3 linked regions of the Homo sapiens genome follow. The protein of the gene in region 1 interacts with the protein of each later gene in a biochemical or structural test. Each region holds a gene or a part of one and is shown in the gene's direction. Other genes may lie near its edges.

Region 1 (7,902 bases):
CCGTTCGGCTCTTCTTCCAGAGAAGTACAAATCCCCGAAGGAAACAAGGTCTTTCCATCTCCCTGCGGACATGTGCAGTTTCTCCGGCAGGTACTGGAAGGCGGATCCCACACTGGAGTATTCCGACCTTCAGCTGCACGACTGGTGCCAAATCCCCACTCCCTGGTGTCCCCAGACTTACTCTGATTGGTGTCAAGGGCTACACTCACACATTTTCCTGGTGACCAGTGAAGATGAGCATCTTTTTCATGTGTTTACCGGCCACCTGAATTTCCTCTTCTGGAGCTGCTTATTCATATTCTTTCCTCGTTTTTCTATCGGGTTGCTGTTCGTTTACTGTTTTTTGAGAAATTCTTTTGTGTATTCTAGAAATGAATATTTTGTCCATTAAATCCATTCTAACTCTCTCTTCCCAGTTGCTACCCCAAAATTTATATATTGGAGTCCTAACGCCAACGGGATGGTATTTGGAGATGAGGTCTTTGGGAGGTATAACTTAGGGTTAGGGCCGGGCGCGGTGGCTCACGCCTGTAATCCCAGCACTTTGGGATGCCGAGGCGGGTGGATCATGAGCTCAGGAGATCGAGACCATCCTGGTTAACACGGTGAAACCCCGGCTCTAGTAAAAATACAAAACAATTAGCCAGGCATGGTGGCGGGTGCCTGTGGTCCCAGCTACTGGGGAGGCTGAGGCAGGAGAATGGCATGAATCCGGGAGGCAGAGATTGCAGTGAGCTGAGATGGCGCCATTGCACTTCAGCCTGGACGACAGAGCAAGACTCCGTCTCAAAAAAAAATAATAATAATAATAATTAGGGTTAGATACGGTCAGCAAGGTGGGGCCCTCACGATGGGAACAGTGCCCTTATTAGAAGAGACAGTCTTTTTTTTTCTTTTTTCTTTTTTTGAGACGGAGTTTCACTCTTGCTGCCCAGGCTGGAGTGCCATGGCACAATCTCGATTCACTGCAACCTCCGCCTCCCAGGTTCTAGTGATTCTCCTGCCTCAGCCTCCCAAGTAGCTGGGATTACAGGCATGCACCACCATGCCTGGCTAATTTTTTGTATTTTTAGTAGAGATGGGGTTTCACCATGGCAAGCCTGGTCTTGAACTCCTGACCTCAGGTAATCCACCCGCATCGGTCTCCCAGAGTGCTGGGATTACAGGCGTGAGGCACCGTGCCCAGCCTTATTTTTATTTTATTGTTTTCCTTGAGATGGAGTTTCCCTCTTGTTGCCCAGGCTGGAGTGCAATGGTGGGATCTTGGCTCACTGCAACCTCCACCTCCCGGGTTCAAGTATTCTCCTGCCTCAGCCTCCCAGGTAGCTGGGATTACAGGACACGCCACCACGCTCAGCTAGTTTTTGTATTTTTAGTAGAGACAGGGTTTTACCATGTTGGCCAGGCTAGTCTCGAACTCCTGACCTCAGGTTATCCACCCGCCTTGGCCTCCTAAAGTGTTGGGATTACAGGCGTGAGCCATTACGCCCGCCTTTTTTTTTTTTTTGAGATAGTCTCGCTCTGTTGCCCAGGCTGGAGTGTAGTGGCTGGATCTCAGCTCATTGCAACCTCTGCCTCCCAGGCTCAAGTGATTACCCTGTTCAGCCTCCTGAGTAGCTGGGATTACACGCACCCGCCACCGCCCCCGGATAATTTTTTTTCTTTTTTTTTGAGACAGAGTCTCACTCCATCACCCAGGCTGCAGTACAGTGGTGTGATCTTGACTCACTGCAACCTCCACCTCCCGGGTTCAAGCAATTCTTTGCCTCAGCCTCCTGAGTAGCTGGGATTACAGGTGCCCGCCACCACGGCCGGCTAATATATACATATATTTTTTAGGTGGAGTCTCGCTCTGTCGCCAGGCTGGAGTGCAGTGGTGCGATCTTCGCTCACTGCAACCTCTGCCTCCCAGGTTCAAGCGATTCTCCTCCCTCAGGCTCCCGAGTAGCTGGGACTACAGGTGGGTGCCACCACACCCGGCTAATTTTTGTATTTTTAGTAGAGACAGGGTTTCACCATGTTTGCCAGGATGTTTTCGATCTCTTGACCTTGTGATCCGCCCACCTTGCCTCCCAAAGTGCTGGGATTATAGGCTGAGCAACCGCGCCCGGCCTAAATTTTCTATTTTTTAGTAGATACGGGGTTTCACCATCTTGGCCAGGCTGGTCTTGAACTCCTGACCTCGTGATCCACCCGCCTCGGCCTCCCAAAGTGCTGGAATTACAGGCATGAGCTCCCACGCCCAGCCCAAAAGAGACAATCTTTCTCCAACATGTGAGGACAGAGTGAGAAGATGGAGGCTATGCTTTGAATGTTTATACCCTCCAAAACGCATGTTGAGGCCAAGTGTGGTGACTCATGCCAATAATCCCAGCACTTTGGGAGGCCGAGGTGGGCGGATCACTTGAGGTCAGGAGTTTGAGACCAGCTTGACCAACATGGTGAAACCCCGGTCTCTACTAAAAATACAAAAAATTAGCCGGCCTTGGTGGCATACGCCTGTAATCCCAGCTACTCAGGAGGCTGAGGTAGGGGAATCACTTGAACCCGGGAGGCGGAGGTTGCAGTGACCAGAGATCGCGCCATTGCACTCCAGCCTGGGCGACAGAGTGAGACTCCATATCAAAAAAAAAAAAAAGATAATAAGGTGCTGCAGATCTGTGGTCTCAGCTACTGGAGAGGCTGAGGTGGGAGGATCTCTCTTCTATTTTTATTTTTTATTTTGGAGACGGAGTCTTGCTCTATCATCCAGGCTGGAGTGCAATGGTGCAATCTTGGCTCGCTGCAAGCTCTGCCTCCCGGGTTCACGCCTTTCTCCTGCCTCAGCCTCCCAAATAGCTGGGACTACAGGTGCCTGCCACCACACCTGGCTAATTTTTGTTTTTTTGTATTTTTAGTAGAGACGGGGTTTCACCGTGTTAGCCAGGATGGTCTCCATTTTCTGACCTCGTGATCCGCCCGCCTCAGCCTCCCACAGTCCTGGGATTACAGGCATGAGCTACCACACCTGGCCTAAGGTGGGAGGATCTCTTGAGCCTAGGAGGTTGAGGCTGCCGTGAGCTATGGTCGCACCACTGCACTGCAGCCTGGGCAACAGAGCAAAACCCTGTCTCGGGGAAAAAAAAGAAAAGAAAAGAAAAGAAGGAACTGCTACAGCCCACAGCCTACAAAGGGGACACAGATAGTAGCTCTGAACAGCAGACGGATAGACGGGAACTTGTCCCTTTAGTCTTTCATGAACAGCCTCTAACTGGTCCAGGCAGGGAGGTGCAGGCTTCCAGGCTGTGGTTCCATGGAGGACACCAGCCGGGCACGCAATGGACGTTTTCCAGCCCTAGCACAGACAGAGCGTGCGGGCCCCTGCTCTCAGAAAGCCAGCCTTCTGCCTCTGGCAGCGCCGGCACATAAAAGCAGAGGGAGCCTGCTGTCTCTGCCTCGCCCACACTAACACCCCTATTTAGAAAGGTTGACACATCACTATCACTGCTTCTGAAAATTTTATCCGGCCGAAGGCATCAGCCCAAATTTGAATTCTTGCCAAAGCTGCTGGTGATTTCGTTCTTTGAATGCAGTATCTTCCTCATGAACACGTACAGCTCTTACAAGAAAATGAGAATACGGTTTGGGGAGGAGGATCCCTCACATTCCTTTTCCTAATGCCAGCCTCGCGAAGTCTGGTCCCATGTACCCTGGGATTCTGCCACGGAAGATGACTCACTTAATTAACACGCTGCTCCTGACCGTACACTTGGAAGCAGAGGTTCCGTTCCTTTGGTTCTTGCCAAAGCTGCTTACGAAACCATATCTTGTGTTGGTGCCCATGGTGTGTAAAAATACAAGTTCATCATTTCCCTGATACAAATTATGACAGGCTAAATTTAGTGCCTCACCTGTCCTAACTAGCTTTCCCACCATCATGCCTGCCGCCGGGCTGTGGTCCTTTCTGAGGTCCCGTGTCCCTCTGAGGACAGGGACACCCAGACACAGAGGTCAGTTGTCAGACGCGGCCACGGTGCTCGGGAGGCTGGCTGCAGACGGGCGATTCACCCTGGGTGTCTTCTTGAGTCTTATTTTTTGTAGAGACGAGGTCTCGCTTTGGTGCTCAGGCTGGTCTCAATCTCCTGGGCGCAAGCGATCCTCCCGCTTGGGCGTGGGCCAGCGCGCCCGTCCCAACGCTGGGAGTCCCGGAGATCTTGGTCACAGGCTTAAGGGAAAGGCCTAGCGCGTGGCCGCGCGTGCCTCTGGTTTCAAGGGACATGGACTGCGTGTCTGGGGCCCCTCCGCACTCCGTGTCAGACCCTGCGTCCCCCGGGTCCGCGCGGGACCCGGGCAGGGCGTCGCCCTCTGCGGCGTCTGCGCCCCGCGAACCCTGGGGCACCTGCAACCCCTGGGCCGCGGAGCCAGGCGTGCGCCGCCTCCTGGTCTCATCAACGTGAGAACGCTTTACCCCCGAAGAGCTCAGCTCCTAGGGGGCTATGTCCCTTTGCGTCTCTCGCTCGCCAGGCGGTGCCGTTTACTCGACCGCACCATGCGTGGGTAGCGGTCGCGCCCGCTGGTAGCTGTGCGGCGGGAACACGTTCTAAGTAAGGCCTGACTCCGCGCGCCTCTTGCCAGGGACGTCACGTCACGCCTCCACTCGCAGCCTCGGAGCACCCCCGCGTCCCGCGCCCGAAGCTCGGGACCCCCGCTCTGGCGAAACGAGGAATATGACATACAGCAAAACACCCCTTCGCGGCCGCTGCACTGCCGCGACACACCCGGCGCCTGCCTCTACAGCAAGCCGGCGAGGGGCTGGGACCCCGCCGGGACGTGCTGACGTCAGGCCCGACGGGGGGCGGGGCCTGGGCGGCGGCGGCGTTAGTTCTCCGGGTACCTCAGGCGCCTCAGCCTCCTTAGTCTCCTCATCCTGCTTCACAGGCTCCGCGGCCTCCGGCCTCCTCGGCCCCCGTCCCCCGGCCTCCTCGGCCCCCGTCCCCCGCCATCCGCCGCCCGGATCCTCGCCGCCCTCCCTAGGCCGCCCCGCCGCCATGGGCCTGCGCCCGCCGCGCCGCCGGGCCGAGGGCAGCTGAGGCGCGGTGCGAAGATGGGCGAGGACAGAGCAGGGCCCGAGCGCCAGCCCCAGCAGCCCGGGCGCCCCGCGCGCGCCCGCCCGCGCCGCCGAGGGGATGCCCGCGCCCGCCGCCGCGCCCTGAGCGCCTTTGTCTGCCGCCCGCGCCCTTCCGCACCACTAGCCTCTCGGGAGCATGGCGTCGGCCCCGCCGGCCTCGCCCCCGGGCTCGGAGCCGCCGGGGCCCGACCCGGAGCCGGGCGGGCCGGACGGGCCGGGGGCGGCACAACTGGCTCCGGGCCCTGCGGAGCTACGCCTCGGAGCGCCCGTCGGCGGCCCCGACCCGCAGTCCCCGGGCCTGGATGAGCCTGCGCCCGGGGCCGCTGCAGATGGCGGGGCGCGTTGGAGCGCCGGGCCGGCCCCGGGGCTGGAGGGAGGCCCGCGAGACCCCGGGCCGTCCGCCCCGCCGCCGCGCTCCGGCCCGCGGGGGCAGCTTGCGAGCCCCGACGCCCCGGGCCCAGGGCCGCGCTCCGAAGCGCCGCTTCCAGAACTCGACCCGTTGTTCTCCTGGACTGAGGAGCCCGAGGAGTGTGGCCCCGCGAGCTGCCCGGAGAGCGCGCCTTTCCGCTTGCAGGGGTCCAGCAGCAGCCACCGAGCGCGGGGCGAGGTCGACGTCTTCTCTCCCTTCCCCGCGCCCACGGCGGGCGAGCTGGCGCTGGAGCAAGGTCCCGGGTCCCCGCCGCAGCCCTCGGACCTCAGCCAGACCCACCCCCTTCCGAGCGAGCCCGTGGGGAGTCAGGAGGACGGCCCCCGCCTCCGAGCCGTGTTCGATGCCCTGGACGGGGATGGGGACGGTTTCGTCCGCATCGAGGACTTCATCCAGTTTGCTACGGTCTACGGGGCAGAGCAGGTACGGAGCGGCCCGGGCCGGGGCGTGGGAACTGGGCAGGTGCGCGCTGGCCGGCGGGGTTGATGTGGGACCGGTCGACGCTGCCCCTGGAGTCGGGAAAGGCACTGTCAAGACCTGACGGTCCTGCTTTTTCTGCTTATTCACCACTTCGGCCCTGGATTTCTGGTTGAATTGCGCTGGAGTCCCTCTTCCCTTCTTAAAAGGAGGTTCTATTCTGGGGAGTCAGTTTCTTCCCCTCCCCCCAGCGCCTCGTCAGCTGGATCTTACCGAGGTCAGCTCCTCGCCTGGGGACACCCCCCCAGGGGGCCTGATCGCCACCCCCCCAGGGTGCCTGATCGACGTGCCCCTGAATGAAGAAGTTCCCCGCGATTCCCCCACCCGAGGGCCCAGATACTGCTCGGCTGAATTCACCCAAGTTCTAGCCGCAGAGGCCAGGCTGCCCAGACGCCTTGAGATCCTACTGATAGACACCTATTTTGAGTACAATTACTTTACTGTGTGTGGTTGACATCTTTTCTACTTAGATTTCATCTTTTATTTGGGAGACAGTCAATGCTTGTAGAGAGTCCTGGAATTAAGAATTTTTACTTTGGTGCCTTTGGGGAGGAAGGCAATGAGCCTCGGAGCTTGTTGGCAAATGCAGAAGTCTAGCAGAACTCCGTTAGGGCCACGTCCACTCTCGTAGGAGAGGTGAAATGCGTGGACAGGCACTACGCACAGTACAGTGTGGAAGGGGTCCACGCGGTCCTCAGGGCACCTGCTCCTGGGGGAAAGGTGGGCCCCAAGATGCAGTTGTTCCTGTCTACCTCAGCACTTAATAAAGTTTAAGTGGAGATAACAGCAGGGCCGTGTGTGTTCTGCCAATAACCCGGTGGACATCAAATAATACCAGTGCTCACTTTTAAATATTTTACTTAGCAGGAAATCCCTAAGGTGCATCTGTCAATTTTTTGTATTTTGACTTCTCACACATGCAGACATCTGGTAAGTGGGTGTTCAAGTACATATGCATGTTTAAGCCAAGAGGTCTGTAAGAAAAGAGGTAAAATTGGCACACTGCTATTTAGGGTGTCAGTCATAACATTAAGAACCTTGATGGTCGGGCGCGGTGGCTCATGCCTGTAATCCCAGCACTTTAGGAGGCCGAGGCGGGCGGATCACGAGGTCAGGAGATTGAGACCATCCTGGCTAATATGGTGAAACCCCGTCTCCACTAAAAAATACAAAAAAATTAGTCGGGCGTGGTGGCGGGCACCTGTACTCCTAGCTACTCGGGAGGCTGAGGCAGGAGAATGGCGTGAACCCGGGAGGCGGAGCTTGCAGTGAGCGGAGATCGCGCCACTGCACTCCAGCCTGGGCGACAGAGCGAGACTTCGTCTCAAAAAAAAAAAACAGCAACAAAACAAAAAACACAGGGTCCTGATAAATCAGGGTTCCTTGCTGAGTTCACATTAAGAAGATGTGCAGACAGGTGCGTGCGGGGCAGCCTGCAATGCTCGCAAGCTTAGCTCCGGTTGGGATATTGTCAGGGTAGTTTTCCACCTACACTAATGGGCAGTGAAATATGTGACTGATACTTTCCTGTATGGTCAGCGTGGATGGTGGTTGCTGGTCCAGGTGTTTTGCTGCGTTTCCTTCTTGCCCCTGGGCTGGAGAGCACCTTGAGCTCCCTTGGTTGCTGTTGGCTACTGCGCTGTCTCTTCTCCCAAACATACTCTTGCTTCAGTACAGCAAAGAAGTTAGGAGAGTACCACATTTGCTCCTTGTTACCATAACCCAACTCTTGATAGAGAACTTCTGTGAGGCTCAGGATGTTTCCACTGGATCATACCACAGTTCTCTGAGATAGTAGGTAAGCAGGATTCATCCCCACTTTACAGGTAAGAAACTGGAAACCCAGAAAGGTCAGATAGCTCTCCCAAGGTCTCACAGGAGTAGAACTAGG
Region 2 (7,023 bases), on another chromosome or scaffold:
TATTTTGTTCTGTTTTAGGACTGTACGAAAAGAATATATCACTGCAAAGTATGTAGATCATAGGTTTTCAAGGAAGACCTGTTCAACTTCATCAGCTAAACTAAATGAATTGCTTGAGGCCATCAAATCCAGGGATTTACTTGCACTAATTCAAGTCTATGCAGAAGGGGTAGAGCTAATGGAACCACTGCTGGAACCTGGGCAGGTAAGGCCTCACTAAAATCATTGGATAAAAAGTAATGTGGAAAATCAGTTTAAAAGGTGACTTATTTTAACATTATACCATATAATGAGATTCTTATACATTGGGTGGCCATGTCTAAATCAAGAGAATATGAGAGTGAAGAGGTGTGCTCCTTATAATTACTTGGGGGCAACTGATATATATGAAGCCTCCCTTGGCAGAGCATATTATTGACTTACTTATACTTTTCTTTCCCTTTTTAGGAGCTTGGGGAGACAGCCCTTCACCTTGCCGTCCGAACTGCAGATCAGACATCTCTCCATTTGGTTGACTTCCTTGTACAAAACTGGTATCGTTTTTGTTTTCTCTGTTGAATTACCTGAATATGCCTTATAAATTAACACAAACCAGTCCTATCAGTGGCCTAGATCGGGAATTGGCAAGCTTTTTCTGTGTCATGCTAGATATAAAAATTATTTTTGGCTTTGCAGGCATGAAGTCTCTCTGTCAGAGCTATTCACTTCTGCCATGGTAGTGTGAAAGCAGCCACTGACAATGTGTAAACAAGCAAGTGTGGCTGTATTCCAATGAAACTTTATTATTTTGTTTATAAAAACAGACAGTGAACCAGATATGGCCTACAGGCTGTAGTTTGCCATCTCTTGGCCTTTATAAATGTAAAATTATGTCTGTATCCAAAAATCTGCTGCACAGATTGGACACATTTGCTAACCGTTAGGAGAGGTTAAAAGAGAGAAGACTTAACAGCACAGGTCAACCATATTTGTGAGTTTTCATTGTTCCTAAATTTAATATAAGACAGCAGCAGTGTGTGTGGCTGGATCAATAGCTCATTCAAGTTTGGGATATACTGATGGAAGTATAAGAGTGAATATAGGAAGTTTGGACTTGCTGGATTCTTTATTCTCTTTATCTGTTCTGTAAGCAACAGATGATGAGGAGGAACTAGAGCTCATCTAAAGAAGAAGATCAAAATAGTGAGGGGATTTGAACCCATAGAGGAAAAATGGTACATAGACACAAGCCAAATTGTATAAAAGTCCAGGTTTCTTCCTCAGAGACAATATAGCATAGTGGCTCAAAACATTGGCTCCAGAGATAGATTACCTGTGTTCAAATATCCCTGCTTCACCATCCCTATCTTGAAAATCTTGAAAGCAAGCACTTCAGCCTCTCTGCGCTTCAGGGTTTTTTATCTGTAAAAGCGGTTATTATTAGTATTTACCCCATCATATAGTTGTAAAGATTCAATGAACTAATACATGTAAATGTTAAGAAACAGTGTCTGTCCCATAGGACCTGGCACTCTAAATAAATACTGCCTGTTATCACTGTATTGCTTATAAATCTAGGTTAGAAACATCATAATTTTCTCTATTATAATAATTAGGTCTCAAATTTGACTCAGTTGTCAGCACAAAAATAAGTGGCTAATCTATAGTTTTAAGTTATAAAGTAAGTCATTTTTTTCTAATCATCATCTAATTTTTCAGTGGGAACCTGGATAAGCAGACGGCCCTGGGAAACACAGTTCTACACTACTGTAGTATGTACAGTAAACCTGAGTGTTTGAAGCTTTTGCTCAGGAGCAAGCCCACTGTGGATATAGGTAAGAGTGTGTCTAGTGTCTTCATGACTGTAGTAAGCGTGTGTTGCATGGTACATTGTAATTTGATTATTGTTCCTTGCCTTCTTAAGGTGTTTCCTAGATAATTATGCAAATTAATTTTTTTCCTATTTCAGTTAACCAGGCTGGAGAAACTGCCCTAGACATAGCAAAGAGACTAAAAGCTACCCAGTGTGAAGATCTGGTAAGCAAAAATGGACGTGGGAGATTTATTAGACATTGGCTGCCTTAAAAGTGTCATTCTGAGAAGCTAGAATTGAATATTAAAAATGCAGATTCATTTTTTTTTAACACTTGCTAAAGAAAATCAGATGAGCAATGTGCTACATTAGAAAAAGTGGTAAAATGATAAATTTGTCATCCACATGTTTTTGGAATGCAGTTAAAGGAGGTGAAAGGCATTACACAAGTATTATTACCAGATCGACTTGTGCATTGAGGTCATGCTTTTTATTTCCCAGACCATTAGACTTTCTCTGCAGCTTAATAGTAAAGAATTATTTGAGAAGCTGCTCCAAAAATTGGGCAAGTAAAGCTCAGAGAGTAGTGGTCTTCAAAATGTTAACACACTGTTCTCCCAGCCCCTCCCCTTCCTGTGCACATTCACCTTTTTTGACCCTACTAGTTCTTGCTTAGCAAGTCAGGGCCTTCACATTAGTGTGATTCTCTTGAGTTTCTGCTAAGTGCCAGGTTCCAGGCCCACCAGTTGGGCCTTTTTATTCTTAAAAGAATCCTTTGAGACAATTATCCCTGCTCCCATTTTATGAATGAGAAAATGGGGCCACAGATTGGACTGGGACCTTAAAAGCCTACGTCTTAAACTTCAAAGACTCGTTTTGCCTTTCAGCCAGGAATTTGCAAGTTTGAGGCCCATTTAATAAGAAGAAAGCTTTTAATTTTGGAGACAAGTCATCAAAATAAAGAAGGCTCTGCCTGCAATTGTTTGCATTTCTTCTTGAGCCTGTCACATAGCAGTGCAGCTTGTCTAAGCAGAGTGTTGCCTATAGTACACCTACAGATGATTCATTGAAAACTAGGAATAAGGTGGGATTTGCTCAGTGTTTGTATAATATTGGGATGTTTCAGCATTTAAATTAAAATGGTGCACATTTGCTGTTCCTTCCAGCTTTCCCAGGCTAAATCTGGAAAGTTCAATCCACACGTCCACGTAGAATATGAGTGGAATCTTCGACAGGAGGAGATAGATGAGAGCGATGATGATCTGGATGACAAAGTGAGTGTAAATTATGTCCTCGAATTCTCAACAACTACCCCAACTTTTCTAGTCTGTGTAGACAAGATCCATTTTTGGTGAGATTGATTGATTGTGGTTTTATGATCCAATGTATCAGGGCCATTTATGTTGTTCAGTCCTTATTGGGCACCATTTAACAGCTATATTAAGGTTGTCCAGAGAAACAGAGCCAACAGGATAGGGAGAGAGACAGAGAAATTTTTTTTAAGGAATTGGCTCACATGATTGAAGGAGCTGTCAAGTTCAAAATGCACAGGGCAGGCCAGCAGGCTGGAAATCCCAGCAGGAGTTAATGTTGCAGTCTTCAGGCTAAAGACAGTCTGGAGGCAGCATTCCTTACCCTTTGGGGGACCTCAGTCTTTTTAAGGCCTTTCTTTGGCTGATTAGGTGAGGCACACCCACATCATGAAGGGTAGTTCCCTTGACTCGAAATCTACTCATTTAAATGGTAATTGCATCTAAAAAATTCCTTTACAGCAACATCTAGACTAGTATTTGACCAAACACCAGGACACTGTAGCCTGTTGACACATAAAATTAACCATGAAGCTAGGCATGGTGGCTCATGCCTATAATCCCAGCGCTTTGGGAGGCCAAGGCAGAACTATCGCTTGAGACCAGGAATTCGAGAGCAACCTAAGCAAAATGGTGAGACCCTGTCTCTACAAAGTAAATGGATCAATCAATAAAACGTGGTGGTGCTATTTGACAAGCTGAGGCAGGAGGATTGCTTGAGCCCAGGAGTTTGAGGCTGCAGTGAGCTATGATTGTACTACTGCACTCTTGACCTGAATGACAGAGCAAGACCCTATATCTTAAAAAAAAAAAAAAAAAAAATTAACCTTCAAAACAAGTAATTAGTAAGTAAATAACAGTTGTTATTTATTGAACATAATCATGCACTGTATAATAACATTTCAGTCCACAACACACTGCATACTCAATGGGGATCAATATAAGATTAAAACGGAGCTGAAAAATAGCCATCACCTAGTGATGCCATAGATGTCATAATACGGTAGTGCAACACATTCCTCAAATGGTTGTGGGATGCTGGTATAAACCAACCTACTGCACTGAGTTGTATAAAAATGTACAGTAATGTCCTAGGCCTTCACTCACACCCAGAGCAGCTTCCAGTCCTTCCAGCTCCATTTATGGAAAGTGTCCTACATAGATGTACCATTTTTTAATCTTATATAACATGTTTTTATTTTACCTCTTCTATGTTTAGATACACAAGTAATTACCATTGTGTTACAGTTGTTTACAATGTTTAGTATAGTAGCATGCTGTACAGGTTTGTAGCCTGGGAGCAATAGGCTATACCATATAGCCTAGGTGTGTAGTAGGCTCTCCCATCTAGGTTTGTGTAAGTATACTCTATGATGTTCGCACAAGAACGAAATCACCTAACACATTTCTCAGAATGTATGCCTGTCATTAAGGAATGATGTTCATTAAATATGGATTAGACAGATTTAAGCACTTACGTTATCTCAGATCATCTTTATTGAAAGTCCATAACTGAGTGCTGTGGCTCACACCTGTAATCCCAGCACTTTGGGAGGGTGAGACGGGTGGATGCCTTGAGCCCAGAAGCTTGAGACCAGCCTGGGCAACATGGCGAAACCCTCTCTCTACAAAAAATACAAAAATTAGCTGGCCGTGGTGGTGTGCGCCTGTGGTCCCAGCTGCCCGGGAGGCAGAGGTGGGAGAATCACCTGAGCCCAGGAACTCAAGGCTGTGATGAGCCAAGATTGTCCCATTGCACTCCAGCCTGGGTGTGGGTGTCTGAGTGAGACCCTGTCTCAGAGGAAAAAAAAAAAAAAGTACATAAGGGACATTGTTATCCCCATTTTACAGAAGAGAAAACTTACAAAGAGAATTTAGCAACTTGTCTAAAGTCTCCCAGCTAGTAAAGACAGTTTGGAGGATTAAACCCAGTTCTCACTGAGTTTTCCTTATAAGCAGTTAACTACCTCTGAAAGTTCATTCATGCATTAATTGATTGCCTATGTATTGGACATTTCCTGTATCACAGGCAGGATGTAAGGAATGGCCAAAGAGGTCCTCAAGCCTTAACAACTTTAAGAGGAAATAAATTATAATACAATGTGATAATCATTATAAGAGTATGGAAAAATTCCTGAGAGCTATTCAGAGGACCAAGCAGCTGCCTCAGTCTGCCTTCTCAAGGACATTGGAGATGGGTTTCTAAGGATAGGTGGAAGCTTGCCAGGGAAAGAAGTGGGGTGGAATGCATCATTCCAGAACACCACGTGCCAAGGGAAGGAGTCATGGTAGAGTCTGGATGTCGGAGGAATGGAGAGAAGCACTGTGTGTGAGATGCATTCACCTGGCTGGGTGGGGAGAGGCAGGCAGCTGCCTTGTAGAGTCAGGCAAACCAGATCAGGATGGCTTTGTGGGCAAGGTTTGGCCTTTGGGTTTTTGTGCAAGCAGTCAGAAGCCCACAGAGGTTTATTGTCTAAAGAGCAAGGTTTCCCACCAGCTCTGGCTGCAGTGTGGAGAATGGACTGGAGGAAGGAAACTGGAGAAGGGGCCATTCTGGAGGCTAGAGCTGCAGTGGGAGCTGGTGAGCACCTGTACTAGGAGGGGCTTCAAGGGATATTTCCAAGGGGAATGCAGGAACCAGGGACTCCAGGTGACACTGAGGTTTCTAACCTGGGCAGTTGAGTGGATCCTAATGCCATCACCACAAGCGCAAATACCAGAGATACCTCATGGGCCATTGGTTTGGAACACAAGTCACTGGGGTTGTATTTACAGATCTGTAAGTAATTATTGTGTAGCGGGCAGTGGGTGTGAATCCGTTTACTTTGCAGGGGGATATAAAATGAGAAAAGAGGCAAAGAAAGAACTTCAACGTTAAAGGGTTGAGCAGGGAACAAAACTTAATGTAGCAAATTAGAAATAGGTGGAAATACTATTCAAATGTTGCTGAAAAAGTCCTGCATTCTGAAGGTGTTTGCTTATTAAAAGTTAAATCTACCTGTGACCTTACTGTGCTTCTGACACTGCTGCTGATCCTAACCAGTGTTTCACTAGTGTGATTATTCATAGTGGTGAACGATATGAAAGTGTGGTATCTAGATCCTTCCCTTGTACTGTGTCAGCATCATGAGGCTCATTGTGGCTGACCTCATAAAGCTCAGAGAGCCACAGGAACCCAGATTCCCACCTGAGCCCGCCCTGCGGAGGCCCTCTGTACACATGAAGGGTGGTCCTTGATTATTATCTCACCTTCTTATTTCATCTGCCAGCCAAGCCCTATCAAGAAAGAGCGCTCACCCAGACCTCAGAGCTTCTGCCACTCCTCCAGCATCTCCCCCCAGGACAAGCTGGCACTGCCAGGATTCAGCACTCCAAGGGACAAACAGCGGCTCTCCTATGGAGCCTTCACCAACCAGATCTTCGTTTCCACAAGCACAGACTCGCCCACATCACCAACCACGGAGGCTCCCCCTCTGCCTCCTAGGAACGCCGGGAAAGGTATGGGCTTTGAGAAGGGCTTGTGACTCCATCCTCGAAGGGCTTGTGACTCCATCCTCAGAGCTGATAGTCTAGCCAGCTTTGAGGTAAGAATTGCAAGGTACATTTGAGTGGCGCGGATCGTGTTGTCAGGAGCAGCTTGAAATAGGGACCATGCCATTTGCCAGGTACCAAGAGCAGGACAGGCAGTGCTGTGGGCTCTCTTTGTGCATTATTTGTGTTAACCTTACAACAATCCTGTGAAGTATGTGCTTTTGTGCCCATTTTACAGAAGAGGAAACTAAGGCTCAATGAGATACACTGACCAGCCCAAGGTCACACCACTGGTAAGAGGTAAAGTTGAGATTCAATCTGAGGTCCACGTGGCTCCAGAACCTGTACTTTTTATAATGTGGAGTGGAGTTTCAGTTCTCTGGAAAGTTA
Region 3 (7,023 bases), on another chromosome or scaffold:
CCCAAAGTGCTGGGATTACAGGCGTGAGCCACTATGCCCAGCCCCAAAGTAATCTTGAGCAAGAAAAATAAAGCTGGATGCATCACACTTCCTGATTTCAAAGTACATGACAAAGTTACAGCAGTAAAAACAGTATGGCACTGATATAAAAACAGACATGTGGACCAATAGAAGAGAATAGAGAGCCCAGAAATGACACATTTTTGGTTAGCTGACCCTCAACAAAAATGCTAAGGACACCTAGTGGGGAGTAGATAGTCTTATCAATAAATGCTGCTGAGAAAATTGGATATCCACATGCAAATGAACGAAATTAGACCCTGATCTCACACCATAAAGAAAAATCAATTCAAATGGATTAAAGACTTACACATAAGACCTGAAACTGTAAACTCAGAAGAAACAAGGAAAAAGCTTCTTGACATTGGTCTGGGCAGTGATTTTTTTGGATGTGACACCAAAAGCACAGGCAACAAAAACAAAATGGACAAGTGGGAGTACATCAAACTAAAAAGCTTCTGCCCAGCAAAAAACAGTCAACAAAATGAAGAAGCGGCATACTGAATGGGAAAACATTTGCAAACCGTGTATCTGATAAGGAGTTAATATCCAAAGTATATAAGGCATGCAGTAGCAAAAAACAACCCAATTGAAAGATGGGCTAGGGGCCTAAATAGACATTTCTCCTAAGAAGACATACAAATGGCCAACCGGTATATGATAAGATACCCAGCATCAGTAATCATCAGGTAAATGCCAGTCACTCCCCAATGAGATAGCACCCCACACTGGTTAGAATGGCTATTATCAAAATACAAAAGATAGTAAATGTTGGCAAGGATGTGGAGAAAAGGAACTTGTCCACTATTGGTGGGAATGTAAATTGGTACAGCCATTATGGAAAACAGTATGGAAGTTTCTGCTCAAAAAATTAAAAATAAAGCTACCGCATGATCCAGCAATCCCACTTCCAGATATATATCCAAAAGAAAATTGCTATCCTGATGAGTTATCTGTGCTTCCATGTTCATTGCAGCATTATTCACAGTAGCAAAGTTATGGAAACAAGTTATATGTCTATTGATGAATGGATAAAGAAAATGTGGGGGGTATGTGTGTGTATATGAATACTACTCAGTCTTAAAATGGAAATCCTGCCTTTTGCAACAACATGAGCGAACCTGGAGGACATTTTGCTAAGTGAAATAAGCAAGACAGAAAGACAAATGCTACATTATCTCACTTATATGTGGAATCTAAAATAGTCGAGCTCATAGAAGCACAGAGTAGATTGGTGGTTGTCAGGGGCTGGAAAGTGGGAGAAACGGGAGATGTCGGTCATTGGTACAAAGTGTCAGTTATGCAGGATAGATAAATTCTGAAGACCCAATGTACAGCACGACTATATCGTATGTTACAAATTTGCTAAGAAGGTAGATCTTGTTTGCGCACCACCTCCCCTCCAAAAAAAAGGTAACTGAGAGGTGCTGGATATGCTAAAAGAAAAACAAAATGATATGTATATTTCAGTGTTCATAAATATTTATTAAAACAGCCACACTAATTTGTGTATTGTCTATGGCTGCTTTCATATTGCAACAGCAGAGCTGAGGAGTTGCAGCTGAGGCTGTATATGTATACATAGTGTTTGACTCTTTACAGAAAAAGTTTACCGACTCCTGGTATAGGTGATACTTACATCATTTTCAGCTTTGGAAGGGCAGTGTGATGGAAAATTTTCAAACTTTTTTTGAGTCTACCTTTTGATGTTTTTTGTCAATTTTTAAAAAATTCTGTAAAAATTCTGCATGTCATCTTTTTAGCAACTGATCCTGCCCCAGTCTAGTGCTCATCTTTCCTTTTGGGGCTCCAATTATATGTATGTTATACCTTTTCACTGTAACCCTTATGTCTGTAGTGGAAAAGTCACCTAAAATTTCACATTACTCTAAGTTTACTTCACTATTTTGTTCTCAGATACCTTCAAACATATTTTAAAAACAAACAAAAAACTTTTCTAGCTTTTCTAATCGTTCTCCGTTGGAGGTTTGGTACAAATTGCATAATCCACTATTAATGAAAACAGAGTCCATTTCCAAAAATTTAGTCAACTATTCTCTCCATAGTATGAATTACTTTTTCATTTAAAGTTAAAATGTTACTTATCTTGAAGGGTCAGATTAGCTGTGTTTATTATTTTTAAAACATTGCCAGATAGTTTTGTGTTGACAGCCACTTGTCCCAGAAAAATTCAGCAAATCTGAAACATTTGTTATTTTTAAAAGGAGAATATTTAACTCATTAAATTTGACAGCTCTTAAGGACTTTGCCAAGATAGCCAGAATAATAGTGCATGGAATATCTTCATGGTTAATATCATTTTGCTATAAATCATTGATAGTAAAGATTCTCCTATTTAAACTAGTATAAGCTGCAAATTCACATTCATGGGCACACACAAACTGCAGTGTTACAATACTGTAAAAGCTAATGAACAAACGGGAAACAAACAGTCAAACTCTGATGTAAAGAACTTCCACCTTTCCATTCTACCACTGTGCATTTTGACAGATCTAGTGAGGGTGCCATTGTCAAACTATTCATTAAATATCTTTGAAGCTCATTTCCTTCCTTCCTCTGATAAATTGTAAACTAAAGTTCTAAAATGTAAGTTCTTAAATCTCGGGGCACTATCTCAAGCACCCTATATATGCTTCCAGTCCATTCTTAATCCCTTACAGGGATTATTCTATACAAGGGCATAATCTTTTAAAAATAAAATGATCATGTCTTCCTTAAAAAAACTGTAAGGCTTCATATTGCATTTAGAATAAAACCCACAATTCTTATTCCGATGTTTTATTTGGTTAATACATATAAACAGAATGTAAGCTCCTTAAGAGCAGGGACTTTGTCCTTTCCCAGTACGTAATCAGCATCTGGAGCAGTACCTCACAAGGAGATGACATGAGTAAATGTCTCATGAATAAACATTATATGAATAAAAAGGAATTAAATACCTAGAGTTTCATATTTGTGGTACTAGAAGATTAAAACTCTATTAAAGGGTAAACTGATTTGCCTTTTTAGGTTGCTCTTCACAAAATTGTCACATAATAAAATTTTGGGAATGTTTTTATTGAAAGCTCTAAGGCTTCTTAGCTGTCATTACTATAAACTGCAACATTATTGGTGTGTTAATGTTTTTACTTGTCCCTCCTGTATGTCTTTGCTTTGACTAATAAGAACATATATAGTGACCACATTATAAAAAGCTGACTGCAAAGGAGTTGGCTTTGACACATTGGTCATTGTTTGCCTTCGTCACATTCACAGTCCTTACGCAAGTATCTATCCGGATGATTGATCTCAACTTGGCTGCCTCAGTGGTAATAGGTCCTAAAAGAAGGCACCTATTCCTAATGTCTCATAGTTTGTCTCTGTTGTCAACTGCTGCTTCCATAGTTGACATTGAATACTTAACTTCAGGCTAACTTTTGGTAGTATATCTTTGCTTCAATTGTAAACATTTGGCAAGAACTTTTTGAAAACAAATGCTACTTTGTTTCTAAAATTTGAGATGTTAACTTTTTCAGGAAGCTCATAAAATGGTGAGAGAAGCAAATATCAAGCAGGCAACAGCAGAAAAACAGCTAAAAGAAGCACAAGGAAAAGTGAGTTTTTGCAGCTCTTAATAGTATAAAATAAATTTGTGATAACTGTTTTAAAGATACCTTAACATCTGTTGGATTTTGTTCTGATCGTAAAGTAGTGCTTGTTTTCAATTTGGAAACTACAGAAAAATAGAAGAAAATAGCTACTATGTAGGTATAATTAATAGTAAACATTTCGTGTCCATTTATATGAGAACCAAATGATTTAAAACCTTGTAAATCACATGAATTATCCAAAGGATTATAGAATCACATTTTAATGTTAATACTTAGTTTTTAAATTCACTGAGAAAAGCCACCTAAATGTTATTAGATTTTACTGTTTTAGGAGTGAACTTCTACAACTAATCATAAGCTATTATATTTTGAGGATTTTGAAAATTCACATAAATGTTAGATATTTTGGTAATTTTCACAGGCTCATTTGACGTTGTTAATAATAGATGAATCCAAACCATATGGAAACATCAAAAAACTTGATTTTAGTTTCTTTTTATTACTCCACAGGAAATACAAATTAAACTTACTTTTCATCTTTGAAAGTGTTTTGACCAGATTGCTAATATTTAGCTGCATATGTCATGAAACGTATTTAATGTATGTGACTATGTTGATTTCTTTCCAAGATTGATGTACTTCAAGCTGAAGTAGCTGCATTGAAGACACTTGTATTGTCCAGTTCTCCAACATCACCTACGCAGGAGCCTTTGCCAGGTGGAAAGACACCTTTTAAAAAGGGGCATACAAGAAATAAAAGCACAAGCAGTGCTATGAGTGGCAGTCATCAGGACCTCAGTGTGATACAGCCAATTGTAAAAGACTGCAAAGAGGTAACTCATCAAGGACTGTCCCCTCTGACTCTGTTGATACTTGTTAGTTCTCATCACTGAGGTGTCAGTTATCATTTTTGCCAGCAAAATTTTTAGTACAAAATAATGCAGTATTAAGATGGGGGAGGCTTTATCTAGAGCTGGCTGCTTTCAGGGATTCTTCAGTTCCATTTTCTACCTGGCTGACCTTGGAGTACCTGCTGGAAACTTGGTAAGTTTCTTAATCTCAGTATTTCATTAAGGGAGGAAACTGTCATGTGTTGTCTAGAGGAGAGTGGGTGGCTTTAATGATCTGGCTAGTCAAAATTTATTGCTAGAGTGCGCTTACAAAGTATGGATATAAGAAATATGTGAAAATAAGATGATTTTCTTAAAGATCAATACATTGCTTTTATTTAAATTCAGAGAGAATTTTATGTCAGCAAGGGAGTCCTAGAGTTAATTTAGATAATTAAGCAACAAAAAAATAGAAATAATGGTAGCCTTACAATGACATAAGGCTGGAAGACATTTTGCTAAGTGAAATTTCAAGTTATAGTAGAACAATTAGTGTCATTTTTGATCCCAAATTAGGTTTCACAGTTCAGCCAGTCTGTTATTCAGACACTTACAACTATGTAAGGCCACCATTATCATGTATCCATAACAATTAAAAATTTAAAAACGAAATAATGGGCCGGGCATGGTGGCTCATGCCTGTAATCTCAGCACTTTGGGAGGCCAAGGCCGGAGGATCACCTGAGGTTGGGAGTTCGAGACCAGCCTGACCAACATGGAGAAACCCTATCTGTACTAAAAATATAAAATTAGCTGGGCATGGTATCTCATGCTTATAATCCCAGCTACTCAGGAGGCTGAGGCAGGAGAATCCCTTGAACCTGGGAGGCGGAGGTTGCGGTCAGCTGAGATTGCGCCATCACACTCCAGCCTGGGCAACAAGAGCGAAACTCTGTCTCAAAATCATAATAATAATAATAGTCTTATTTTAAAAGATATGTTACAAAGATAACTGAAATAATATATAAATATTTTGAGCTGTTTAGAGTAAAAATTTTTAATCATTGTATACTGTGAGAATGCATTTCTAAGAGGATTGATCAATAATTTATGAAGCTTTCCCATTTCTTCTTAGAAGCCATCTTTTACATTGTTAAATTCAAGTCCATCATTAATCTTGAAGAAATGTGTGTGCTTGTTAAATTTTTGTATGGAAGCCAGGAGTTTATTAAATGGAATAACCAATGTTAACCTGTTTTAATTGAATTGCATTTTGACGAATTATCAATAAAAATGATGCTGGTAAGAGAGAAGTTCAATACTTGGTTAAATCTGAATGTAACCAAATCCAAAATTCACATTGGTTTCTGTTAAATATTTAAGAAACTTCTTTGTCCTAACTTTAATTCTAATTCTTTGGAATTTAAATAGCAATTTTAATTGCCTGGTACAACTTGTATTTTTGGTGTTTCTTACTCAGTATGTGTAAGTAATTATGTACTTTCCCCCCTATTTACACTAACAAAATTATAAGTGTCTTCTCATGGAACATGGTAAAGATTCATTTTTAGTTTTTGAAATCCCTTAAAATGTGCATAGGCAGCATATAACTTCAAAATAATAACCTTTGCTCTTCAGGTACGTGTTATAGTCTGATGTTTCATGAAAAACTTGTCAAAAAGTCTTACTAGGCAAAGGAATTACATAAATTTGACCTGTGTAAGTCTTAGAAAAATATGTAACAATCTGGAAGAAAATTAAGCATGTCCGTGTTTTTGTAGAAAATATGATGGGGCACTCAGTTATGACATTAGCAACATGTCTTCTGTAAACATTTAAAATACACATGCATGCATGCAGACATACATGCCCAGTGCAAGGCTTTGGGATCAAGCCACTTAGATTTGAATTCGGACTTTACTGCTTTCTTGCTATGCAATCTCCGGCAAATTACAAATGGCAATCATAATATCTGTCTTGCACAGTTGTGAGGATTAAATGCTTGTAAAGTGCTTACGGTGGTTCCTGGCAGAGTCAGCTCTTAATAAATGGTTTAAATTACAGCCTTTAAACTAGAATCTTTCCTTAGAATACCACTTACCTGCTTTGGGGTTTATGTCCTTTTTCTTTTCTTTCTTTTTTTTTTTTTTTTTTTTTTTAATAAATTTGCATCTTTCTTTTTTTTTTAATTATTGTTATACTTTAAGTTTTAGGGTACATGTGCACAATGTGCAGGTTAGTTACAGATGTATACATGTGCCATGCTGGTGCCCTGCACCCACTAACTCGTCATCTAGCATTAGGTATATCTCCCAATGCTATCCCTACCCCATCCCCCCACCCCACAACAGTCCCCAGAGTGTGATGTTCCCCTTCCTGTGTCCATGTGTTCTCCTTGTTCAATTCCCACCTATGAGTGAGAATATATGGTGTTTGGTTTTTTGTTCTTGCGATAGTTTACTGAGAATGATGATTTCCAGTTTCATCCATGTCCCTACAAAGGACATGAACTCATCATTTTT

Evidence for each region. Proteins that work in one complex are often made in the same cells at the same time.
Region 2: the proteins of RAB11FIP3 (region 1) and ASAP1 form a complex in vitro, tested with the Homo sapiens proteins (one study listed by BioGRID).
Region 3: the proteins of RAB11FIP3 (region 1) and RAB3IP form a complex in vitro, tested with the Homo sapiens proteins (one study listed by IntAct).

What each region holds. Positions count from the first base shown.
Region 1 is NC_000016.10:420,764-428,665, forward strand, and holds the start of RAB11FIP3 (rab11 family-interacting protein 3), read left to right. Parts: upstream 1-4,885; 5' UTR 4,886-5,243; coding exon 5,244-5,957; intron 5,958-7,902. UniProt on the Homo sapiens protein: Downstream effector molecule for Rab11 GTPase which is involved in endocytic trafficking, cytokinesis and intracellular ciliogenesis by participating in membrane delivery. Recruited by Rab11 to endosomes where it links Rab11 to dynein motor complex.
Region 2 is NC_000008.11:130,111,671-130,118,693, reverse strand, and holds part of ASAP1 (arf-GAP with SH3 domain, ANK repeat and PH domain-containing protein 1), read left to right. Parts: intron 1-18; coding exon 19-205; intron 206-447; coding exon 448-533; intron 534-1,698; coding exon 1,699-1,814; intron 1,815-1,948; coding exon 1,949-2,016; intron 2,017-2,679; coding exon of another isoform or gene 2,680-2,862; exon of another isoform or gene 2,863-2,880; intron 2,881-2,958; coding exon 2,959-3,066; intron 3,067-6,371; coding exon 6,372-6,600; intron 6,601-7,023. UniProt on the Homo sapiens protein: Possesses phosphatidylinositol 4,5-bisphosphate-dependent GTPase-activating protein activity for ARF1 (ADP ribosylation factor 1) and ARF5 and a lesser activity towards ARF6.
Region 3 is NC_000012.12:69,790,841-69,797,863, forward strand, and holds part of RAB3IP (rab-3A-interacting protein isoform alpha 1), read left to right. Parts: intron 1-3,596; coding exon 3,597-3,674; intron 3,675-4,300; coding exon 4,301-4,504; intron 4,505-5,636; coding exon of another isoform or gene 5,637-5,762; exon of another isoform or gene 5,763-5,803; intron 5,804-7,023. UniProt on the Homo sapiens protein: Guanine nucleotide exchange factor (GEF) which may activate RAB8A and RAB8B. Promotes the exchange of GDP to GTP, converting inactive GDP-bound Rab proteins into their active GTP-bound form.